Regions from separate parts of the Homo sapiens genome. Here region 2 is linked to region 1. The links come from fine-mapping of genetic effects on plasma protein levels. A gene starts in region 1. The other region holds a variant in brackets. All regions are shown on one strand. Distances are from middle to middle. Region 1 holds the start of SCLY (selenocysteine lyase). Region 2 overlaps SCLY (selenocysteine lyase).

The links. PIP is the chance, under the fine-mapping model, that this variant and not a neighbour inherited with it causes the effect. Protein levels are from antibody-based Olink assays in UK Biobank. Linkage for the fine-mapping came from a reference panel and not from the study's own genotypes, which makes the PIPs less certain.
Region 2: its variant is fine-mapped to the plasma level of the SCLY protein (UK Biobank, PIP 0.98).

The regions. Positions count from the first base shown.
Region 1 is chr2:238,056,135-238,061,499 of GRCh38, forward strand. SCLY (selenocysteine lyase) reads left to right here and starts at 4,867. Exons shown (of 12, transcript NM_016510.7): 1 at 4,867-5,009. The coding sequence starts at 4,921. UBE2F-SCLY (UBE2F-SCLY readthrough (NMD candidate)) reads left to right here. Exons shown (of 19, transcript NR_037904.1): 8 at 1,024-1,116. RefSeq lists an enhancer at 1,148-1,317, a cis regulatory region at 1,233 and silencers at 4,277-4,486, 4,627-5,076.
Region 2 is chr2:238,090,248-238,095,612 of GRCh38, forward strand. It overlaps SCLY (selenocysteine lyase), which reads left to right. Exons shown (of 12, transcript NM_016510.7): 8 at 971-1,007; 9 at 3,614-3,697; 10 at 4,173-4,275. UBE2F-SCLY (UBE2F-SCLY readthrough (NMD candidate)) reads left to right here. Exons shown (of 19, transcript NR_037904.1): 15 at 971-1,007; 16 at 3,614-3,697; 17 at 4,173-4,275. Among named protein-coding and RNA genes, the nearest start is that of ESPNL, 7.4 kb to the right of the region's middle. RefSeq lists enhancers at 2,072-2,241, 3,927-4,596, 4,597-5,264. The variant C/T (reference allele first, on the strand shown) is at 2,943.

The sequences.
Region 1 (5,365 bases):
TTGGAGAAGTAACTCTAAAGTGCTGAAAGAAAAAATCTCAAGCCAGAATTCTAGATCTAAGGAACATATCAAATATGAAGGCAAAATAACAAGTTTTCATGTGTACAAAAGCTGAAGGAAGCATACCAGCAGACTAGCACTACAAAGTCCTTTGGCAGAAGAAATGATACCAAATGGAAACGTGGAACCACATCAGGGTTTCTCCCCTTTGGCACTGGCGACACTTGGGGCTAATAATTTATTGTGGGGGATGCTCAGTAGTATAAATAGCCTCACTCACTACAGCCCAGAAGCACCACAGCTCCTGTTATGGTAACCAAAATTGTCTCCAGATATGACCAAAGGACCCCTGGAAGGAAAAATCACCTCTGCTTGAGAATCACCATATTCAATGGACAATTTTATTTCATATTTTCCATCTCTATCCTTTTGAGCAATAATCAGAGAATTCCTAGGGCCAGTTCACGAATTCACTCCTCAGCTATGCCTATTCTGCTCTTCAACCCATCTATTGGGGGGTTCTAAAAAAAACAATAAACCTTATTTATTAGAGGAGTTTTAGGTTCACTTGAAAATTGAGCAGTTACCATATATCCCCTGCCTGTGCACATGTACGCAACCTCCTCCACTATCAACATCCACTGTGGTACTTTTGTTAACAACTGATTAAACTTCATTGACACATCATCACCCATAGTCCATAGTTTACATTAGGATTCATTCTTGGTGTTGTATCTTCTGTGAATTTTGACAAATATATTACATGTATCCACCATTATAGTATACAAAATAGTTCATTGCCCTAAAAATTCTGTTCTCTGCCTATGCATCTTTTCCTTCCCCAACACCTGACAACTCATGTTGAGTTTTTAAACTTCAATTATTAATGTCTAGTATCTCTTTTCACTGTTTGTTCTTGTTTCATGACAGCCTATTTTTTTTTTTAAATAAAATACCCATTTGTCTCAAGACCTTGCTCTATTGGAGACCTACTCTGATAGCTCTATAAACTTTTTCCCTTAGGTGAGAATTCTATTTGGTGCACGTGCTATTGTGTCCGGAATTGGTGGGTTCTTGGTCTCACTGACTTCAAGAATGAAGCCGCGGACCCTCGCGGTGAGTGTTACAGTTCTTAAAGGCGGCGTGTCCAGAGTTTGTTCCTTCTGATGTATGGATGTGTTTGGAGTTTCTTCCTTCTGGTGGGGTTTGTGGTCTGGCTGGCTCAGGAGTGAAGCTGCGGACCTTCGCGGTGAGTGCTACAGCTCTTAAGGCGGTGCGTCTGGAGTTGTTCGTTCCTCCCGGTGGGTTCGTGGTCTCGCTGGCTTCAGGAGTGAAGCTGCAGACCTTCGTGGTGAGTGTTACAGCTCATAAAGGCAGTGTGGACCCAAAGAGCGAGCAGCAGCAAGATTTATTGCAAAGAGTGAAAGAACAAAGCTTTGACAGCGTGGAAGGGACCCGAGCGGGTTGCCACTGCTGGCTCGGGCAGCCTGCTTTTATTCTCTTATCTGGCCCTACCCACATCCTGCTGATTGGTCCTTTTTACAGAGAGCCGAGTGGTCTGTTTTGACAGGGCGCTGATTGGTGCGTTTACAATCCCTGAGCTAGACACAAAGGTTCTCCAAGTCCCCACCAGACTCAGGAGTCCAGCTGGCTTCACCCAGTGGATCCCCCACTGCGGCTGCAGGTGGAGCTGCCTGCCAGTCCCGCTTGCCCTGCGCCTGCACTCCGCAGCCCTTGGGCGGTGGATGGTACTGGGTGCCCTGGAGTAGGGAGCAGCGCTCGTCTGGGAGGCTCAGGCTGCGCAGGAGCCCATGGAAGTGAGGAGGTTCAGGCATGGCAGGCTGCAGGTCCCGAGCCCTGCCCCACGGGGAGGCAGCTAAGGCCCGGCGAGAAATCCAGCGCAGCGCAGGTGGGCTGGCACTGCTGGGGGACCCAGTACACCCTCCGCAGCCGCTGGCCCGGGTGCTAAGCCCCTCATTGCCCGGGGCCGGCGGGGCCGGCTGGCAGGCCGCTCCGAGTGCGGGGCCCGCCAAGCCCACGCCCACCCGGAACTCCAGCTGGCCCAGAAGCGCCCCGCGCAGCCCTGGTTCCCGCTCGCGCCTCTCCCTCCACACCTCGCTGCAAGCTGAGGGAGCCGGCTCCAGCCTTGGCCAGCCCAGAAAGGGGCTCCCACAGTGCAGCGGTGGGCTGAAGGGCTCCTCAAGTGCCACCAAAGTGGGAGCCCAGGCAGAGGAGGCGCCGAGAGCGAGCGAGGGCTGCCAGGGCTGCCAGCACGCTGTCACCTCTCACTATCTTCATGGAGATGCCATTCCTCAAATGTCTGGCCACTATGGGGCACTTGTGTTTGTATTAGAGACATCTTGGTAGGTCATCTGTTGCATGTGTGACCAGTATACTTGGAATGGTGGTAGCTGCTGCTGCGTGTTGTACCCTAAACTGTTTTCAGCTGGGCTACCTCAGCACCTGGGCTTCTGTATGTTTGTACTCAATTCTTTCGGGGTATCACCAGCCATGTTGGACACTATCTTGTCTGACTCCACCACTACACTCACTATGTTCACCTGGAAACACAAACCTTATTGCTGCCTAACTGGCCCAAGGAGTGCTTGGGATGAATCGTCACTTTGTCCATTGTCCTTGGGCTCCTATCCTTACAGCCTTCCAAACAGATTTAGAGAATGAATTCTCCCCATGCCTATCAACTTCCCTAGCCACCTTTACTCTTAACTTCATCCCCTATCGTCTCCTCCAGGACTTTGGCTCCTCTTCCTTGCACGTCCTGTTGGCTAACTCCCTTTAGCCTATGAACATGTTCAGTCTCTATTTGCTCTTAATCTTTTTTTTTTTTTTTTTTTTTGAGACGGAGTCTCACTCTGACTCCCAGGCTGGAGTGCAGTGGCATGGTTTCAGCTTCACTGTGTAACCTCCACCTCCCAGGTTCAAGTGATTCTCTTGCCTCAGCCTCCCCAGTAGCTGGGATTACAAGCATGCACCACCACAGTCGGCTACTTTTTGTATTTTTAGTAGAGACGGAGTTTTGCCATGTTGGCCAGGCTGGTCTCGAACCCTTGACCTTAGGTGATCCACCCACCTCAGCCTTTCAAAGTGCTAGGATTACAGGGGTGAAGCACCGCGCCCAGCTTGCCTGTAATCTTATACGCCTTTTTAATTCCTCCTTTCTCAACCGTTTTAAGAGTTGACTGCATTCTTCATTTTTTCATATCCCATCTTTGCATTCTAACTTCCATGCCTCTCCCATCACTGAGACTTCTCTCGCTAGTTTATCAGTGCCTCCTAATTGTTACGCACAGTAGACTTCGGATTGCCTCTCAGCCACACTTTACACTATTATGTGTCTTCTTGACTTTTTTGACATTCCTTCTCAATTCCCTTTCCTTTCCTCCTCTTTTGACTGTTCTCATGCTCCTGTGCATCCATTTGCTTCTTAAATGTTGGTGGGCCCTTTGCTATTGGCTGCATTTGGCAAGAAATGAGCTGCGTTTATAGGGAAGAATGAGAGAGAATGAGTCCAGAAATTTGCAGATTTGCTGTGCTGGAAAAGCCAAGTTATTCTGGACCCCAACAGGACACAAAATAGAGAAAGCCCATGAAAAGCCAATTAAAATTCAACCTCTTGGCAAAGCATGCTTGAAACCGAATTTTGGCTCCAGCCACTACTCGTGTGAACTTGGGCAAGATGCCTTTCTGTATCTTGGATTCCTCATACATAAATACCTACCAGACTGGGTTAATCATCAAGATTAAATTAGTGAACACACGAAAAATACCTAGAACACTGCCTGGCATAGTTCAAGGCTCAATTAAAGGTAGACACTATTATGCCAAAAAAACAAAAAACAACAAAAAAAGTGACGGTAGGATGGCTTCGTGAGGATTTTTGCTCATTTCTACCACTTTCTCAACTGACTTTTCTTAATGGTTGGCGGGACACCAACCATTGGTGGATGTTTACACTTGTGACTGTCTCACAGACAACTCAACATGTCCAAAGCTAAACCCATCATCTTTCCCCCTCCCGTCTTCCCTCTTACCCAGATAAAGGCACTAACATCTTCCCAGTCACTTGTCTAATCCTTGCTTCCTTCCTGTCCCTCATGCCCCAATTCCTATTTAACGGCCTAAACAGATCTTGAATTAATCTTTCCTGCGTTTCCACGCCCACTTAGAGTCCCTCATCTCTGGCCCTATTTTCTCAATGCCCTCCCATCCTCTACTCCAGATCCCCTCAAGTCCATCCTCGATGCGTGACTCTTAACTTCACGCCATCCAGGTCCCCTATGGAGCCGCTCCGACTAACGGACGCGCAGGTCCAGCGGACCTGCTCATCACTGTCCAGGGTGGCCTGCGGGAGACCCCCGGGGCCCTGGCCCTGCTGCCGCGGCCCCGGCACTTCCCCTCGAGGGTTCGCGGGGAACAAGGCCGCGCGGCCCCGGCTCTCCCGGAGTGCACGGTCCCGCGCTCATGCGGCTAGAGGGAGGCACCCGCAGGACTGCCCAGCCGCCTCTGCTCCTCAGGTCCAGCTCGGGCCCCGCCTGCTCTTACGCCGACTAACCGGCCGCGGCCCGATGGCGGCCCTGCCGCAGACAGCAAAGGTCACGGGGCTCCCCCGGAAGTGAAAGTGCGGGGATCCGCCGGCCCAGGAGACGCGGCTTCTAGCGCCCGGTTCCCGGGAAGCTCTGTGACGCGCTAAGCCCCGCCCCCACCCGTCACCTGACCCAGCGCAGCCTCGCCTCCCCGCTGGGGGCTCGGCGGCCCTCTGAAGCGGGTGGATTGGCTGGGGTGCTTCGCTCAGCCAATCCGGACGCGCCCGGGCGTCGCGGCCCCGCCTCCTCCCCGGCGCTCTGGGCCCGTAGCGCTCCGCGGGAAGGAGGCTGGATGCCCGGCAGCAGTGGGGCGGGGATGGAGGCGGCCGTGGCGCCGGGGAGGGATGCGCCGGCACCCGCGGCGAGTCAGCCCAGCGGCTGCGGGAAACACAACTCGCCGGAGAGGTGCGCGCCTTTAGGGCAGGGCTGGGGAGCGGCCGGCGCCTGTCGCCGATTGTCCCGCGCGGGAGGACGAAGGGGGCTCCCGGCCTGTGGCCGCTCTCGCGTGGGGCGTCCCGCGCGGGGATGTCCGCGAGGTCGGCCTAAGTCAGGGATGCGAGCTTCAAGGAGGAGCGGGTGCGAGCTGTGGCCCCGCAAGGGCCCACGGAGAGGTGACTTTGGGGCCGAAACCCGAGTGACTTCCAGGGGTGAGGTTTGCAGGTTCTGGGGAAGCAGAGCCTGCCAGGAAGAGGGCACAGCAGATGCGAAGGGCAGGGGACTTGCCGGAGGTGAACCGGCAGAGCCCCTGAGCCCGGGAAGAA
Region 2 (5,365 bases), 34 kb after region 1:
AAGAATAGAGACACCACCAAATGCTGGTGAGGGTGCAGAGAAAATATCTATTGGTAAACAAGCAATAGCCGAGTCCAGAGGTTTAAGAAAACTTTGTTCAGGCAAACTTAAGAAATTAATGGGCCGGGCGCAGTGGCTTACACCTGTGATCCCAGCACTTTGGGAGGCCGAGGTGGCTGGATCACGAGGTCAGGAGTTCGAGACCAGCCTGACCAACATGGTGAAACCCTGTCTTTACAAAAATTAGCTGGGCATGGCGGCACATGCCTGTAATCCCAGATACTCAGGAAGCTGAGGCAGGAGAATCACTTGAACCCGGCAGGTGGAGGATGCAGTGAGTCGAGATCCACTGCACTCCAGCCTGGGCAACAGAACGAGACCCCATCTAAAAAAAAATTAAGAAATTAATTATTAAGTTAATTTTTTTTTCCTGAAAATAGGGTAATGAGTTCTGTTTTTCGGTTTGTTAGGTCAGAGTATGCAAGCCATTGTCTTTAGGGGTCTCTTGCCCATCTCCTGTGTGTGTGCACACCCACACGCGCTTGCACACATACACACACACACACACCCCTCTTGTTTGCTGATGCCTGAAATGTTGAGAACAAAGGGTTCTCCCCTGTTCCATACTATACTGATTTGGCAGTGAGGACTAAAGAGAGCTGTGCCTTGGGGCCTACAGGAGGCAGAGTGCTTGCTTTGGGTAGGAAAAGGGTCCAGATAGAACTGTCACAGTGAACACCCAACACATCACCCACAGTGGGCCTCGTTGACCTTCACTGGGCCAGGGCAAGTGAAAACTTGGCAGGGGAGGTTTCTGGGGCCTGCAGCTGCCATTGAGATAGCCACATGGCGCGTGCTTAGGAAAGATGTAGCGTGAGTTTGATTTTATTTTAACACAATGACTTTCATGGAGACAGGATTCCTTCCTGAGACATTTGTTTATTCTTGCTTAATCCCTTGTTTCTTACAGGACAGAGAACACCCCAATGATTGCTGGCCTTGGGAAGGTGAGCCCTGGTGAGCTTGAGGAGATGAGTTGATTGCTTTGTCATCAGTGTCCCCAGCGGCTCTAGTAGGAATCTGGGGCTTTAGGGAGATCATATTCGTGATCTCATAAGCGGACTGACAAGAAAAAGCCTGGAATCTGATTTATCAACCTGGAGAGCTGTACTTTTTCAGATCTGTGGATTAGTGGCACTTGTTTAGCATTTAAAAGGGAAAAACTCCTTGTCTGTGTCTCTTCTGACATGAGAAACAGTGATACTGTTACAGCAGAGGTGAAGTGTCAAGCTGCAGGTTCACCATTCCCAAAGGCGTCGGCAGCCCCCGCACCATCGACGTTCTGTCCCCGATTGGTCTGTGGGGTGGCCAATCCAGCACCTGCCACCAGCCCTCCACTGGGGCCTGTCCTGCTTCTGCGACAGTAACCAGGCTCAGGTTTTGCCGTGCGAAGGCAGAGGTACTGGTTACACCTCGGCGTCTGCAGGCTGCTCCCTCACTGTGCGGCCTCTGGTCAAAGGCCACCACCTTCAAGCAACCCTCCATGAACCACAGCTACATTGGTTCCCCCATGTCCCCTGCTGTCACCCTCTATCCCTGACACTGCTTTATTTCCCCTATCTGATGTTTCTCTGTAGTGTGTTCAGATGTATGCCCCACCTTCTGCTTCCCCGAGAGCAGGGGCTTGGCCATGTCGGCCTCAGTATCCCCAGTACAGAGAAAGGGCTTAGCGCCCAGGAGGCCGGGCCTTGGGAAGAGTATGAATGGATTCCCTGTTACTTAGAATATTCAAAATTATATTATTAACAGTGATAACTGTGGCTACATTTACTAGAAGGAAGAGTGTGTGTTTGTTTGAGATGGAGTCTCACTCTGTCACCCAGGCTGGAGTGCAGTGGCACGACCTTGGCTCACTGCAGCCTCCATCTCCCGGGTTCAAGAGATTCTCCCACTTCAGTCTCCAAGTAGTTGGAACCACAGGCATGCGCCACCATGCCTGGCTAATTTTTGTATTTTTAGTAGAGACAGGGTTTCACCATGTTGTCCAGCTGGTCTCGAACTCCTAACCTCAGGTGATCCACCCGCCTTGGCCTCCCAAAGTGCTGGGATTACAGGCATGAGCCACCACGCCCAGCCGGAAGAGTGTGTTTTAAGTGGAGTCCGGTACCTGCTCGTATTGACCTGAGTGATGAAGTAGTGGTGCCGTCCACAGGCTTTGAAATACCCAGGGTTCAAATCCTGGCTTGAAGCTTCACTCACCGTGTGCCTTGGGTCAGGTCGCTGGAACTCCCTGAGTCCTGGCTGCCAGATGGGAATCACGGTAACAGCTTCCTAGGTAGAGCTTCAGCTCACAGTGCTGGAAGCCCCCCAGCCCCTGACCTTCTCCGTGCTCCTGCAGCTGCATCTGCACCTGTAATGGCACAAGTGCCACAGCTGGGTCCCAGCCACAGCACCACACCCCCACTGGTTCTTCAGCTTCGCCCAGCCCAGACCCCAATGCCACCAGCGCTCTAGACAGCCCCCCTCCGCCACCCAGCCTAGACTCCATCCTGCACACGCCCTCCCCAGCGTGCTTTCCCTCACCCATTCCTTTCTGCCTTGGTTGCGTGCTGGCAGCCCTGCACCTGAGCCCTTGTGGGTCCGTCTGTCCTGTCACTGTGATGCTAGCTTGTGCTCCTGCCTTTAAACTTGACATCTCAGCTAGGCCCTGGCCCATGTCCTGAGAGATCCATTCCTCTGAGTTCAAAACCTGTCCCGACTGCTCTCCTCCAACCCTCTTCCCACCCTGGGCACCTCTTGCTATCCAGGTTCTCACCTCTGAAGTCCGGGGGATGCCCTCAGTCCCTCCTTGTCATCGTCCCCTGCCTCCAATGCAGCACCTTCCTGTCTGTCTGGATTCCAGAATACACCCACTACCGGCCTCATGTCCATTTTCATGGCCA[C/T]CAACCCTAGACCAAGGGTCTGGATGCCTGCCATGGCCTCCTGGGGGCCTGCTGCTGCCATTTTCCACACGGCCACAGAATGACCAACAGACAGGCCAGTCAGACCATCGCATCCCTCCCTCAGCCTCACTGCGTCTGCCCCGTGGCCGGGCCTGCAGGGCCTGTCGATCTGTCCCTGCGCCTTCACCCCCTCCACACTCTCCACCCGCCACGCCAGGCCCCTCTGTTCTAGAGACAGAATGTCTGTCTGTCCCCTGCAAAGCCCTTGCTGGGACGCCATTCCCTGCCCTTGTACAGCCATCTCTGTCACCACCCCACCTTGGGCCTGCGAGGTGCCTTCACAGCGCCAACTGGTGGGTAGGAGTCTGTTCCCCTCTTCCCCTGCTTTTGTCCGTCTGCCTCTCTGGGATGCTGGCTCCTCGAGGGAGCCCTTTCAGGGCTGCTTTGCTGAGGCATCTCCAGTGCCTGGTGCTGTCAGGAGGTACCTGGTGAAGTCAGTTTCTGGGGCACTTCCACACCCTCCAAATGGCAGCACTCAAAAAATATGGTCTGTCTGTGACTGTCAGGAGAATGAGCAGTTTCAGGAAATGCCACCTGTACCGTTGAAAGCTTTTTGGCCCTCCTTTATTTTGCAAGAATTGTGCATCCACTTGTTGTGTGTCTGCCCCCAGGCCGCGGAGCTGGTGACCCAGAACTGCGAGGCTTATGAGGCCCACATGAGGGACGTCCGCGACTACCTGGAAGAGAGGCTGGAAGTGAGCGCAGCGTGGGGTGGGCACCAGGAGGGGGAGGGTGCGTGGGGCAGGTGCCCAGAGAGGAGGGGTGTGGTGCTCCCAGACCCCAGGACCTGTGGGGATTGCAGCGTAGCCTGGAACTCAGCAGGATGCAGTGAGGGAAGAAAGAACAGTGGCAGAAAGTACATTGGGATCTGAAACCCCGAAAGCAGGACCCTAGGCCAGGGGCATGATCTTTTTCAGAGACACAGGATCAAATATGCAGAGGTGGTATACCTCATGGTTTATGTGGAAGGTTCATATGTTTCTGAATATTTGGTTTTTCTCCTAATTAACTTTGCTTTCCATAGTCCGTCCCCGTAACTATTCTGGGTAGATGCTGATTGAAAAGTATGCACCTGCTGAAGTTGTGTTTCTGGAAAAGTCTAAATTTCAAACAGTTGCTGGTGGTGGTGTCTTTGAAGCTGTCACCAAATATTTCACTTATTTTTTTCAGGCTGAATTCGGTCAGAAGAGAATCCATCTGAATAGCCAGTTTCCAGGCACCCAGCGGCTTCCCAATACCTGTAACTTTTCCATCCGGGGACCCCGGCTTCAAGGTGATGGCCCCTCACCCTGGTCTTTCCGAGTGTGAGCACAGCTCCCTCGGTGCGTGGATTCTGGTCCGAGCCAGTGACTCCCACTCGCCCTGCCCTGAGCATGACACAGCTCGGGCTGTCAGAGGGCCTTGCTGGGGTTGCCAAGAGCAGGCTCGGGTGGCTGTGCTGTGGTCCACAGGGCTCTCGCCGCTGGCCCCTCCTCTCCCTGACGTGGCTCATTTTGCTGCTGCTGGGATGTGGACTGTGGCAAACTCTCGTGTCTGGCATTAGCGCCACCCCAAAAGCCGTCAGGGAAGGAAGCAACATTAAATTCTAGACATTTGTCTATTTTGTTGGCAGTTTTAATTAAATATTTGAGTGAGGGAAAGGGGAGGTGATCAGTTTTAAAAACTGGCAGAGGCTGGGCACAGTGGCTCGTGCCTGTAATCCTAGCACTTTTGGAGGCTGAGGCAGGCTGATCACAAGGTCAAGAGATTGAGTCCAGCCTGGCCAACATGGAGAAACCCCATCTCTACCAAAAACTACAAAAAATTAGCCAGGCATAGTGGTGTGCACCTGTAGTCCCAGCTACTTGGGAGGCTGAGGCAGGAGAATTGCTTGAACCTGGAGGTTGCAGTGAGCCATAATTGAGCCACTGCACTCCAGCTTGGGTGACAGAGTGAGTGAGACTCTGTCTCAAACAAACAAAAAACAACAAAAATAACTGGCAGAGTAAGGATCAAGTGCAAATCTGGATTTCCTGCAACATCTGCCTCGGCTAGGAGCAGTTAGGATCACCCCCGTCCCAGATGCACCTAAAACCTGGTCTGCCCTGACTCCCTGAGAGTGGAAGTCCAGGTGATTGACCAGCCGCATGTCATTTGGGAGGAGGTTATAGTGGCCCTGAGATCACGATGAGCTGCATCTGTAAACAAGTTTTTGACTTCTTAGAAGATGAAAGTGTTGCTTCTTTCTTCTTCCTGGATCACGCAGAGAAACCCAGCAGTCGTGTTTGGCCCATGAAGAAGAACCCGTGGGTAACCGTCATGATGGCTGCGTTCATGAGAACCTGGGCTGAAATGCGTTCTTGTGGGCAGTGAAGCCTGGGTCT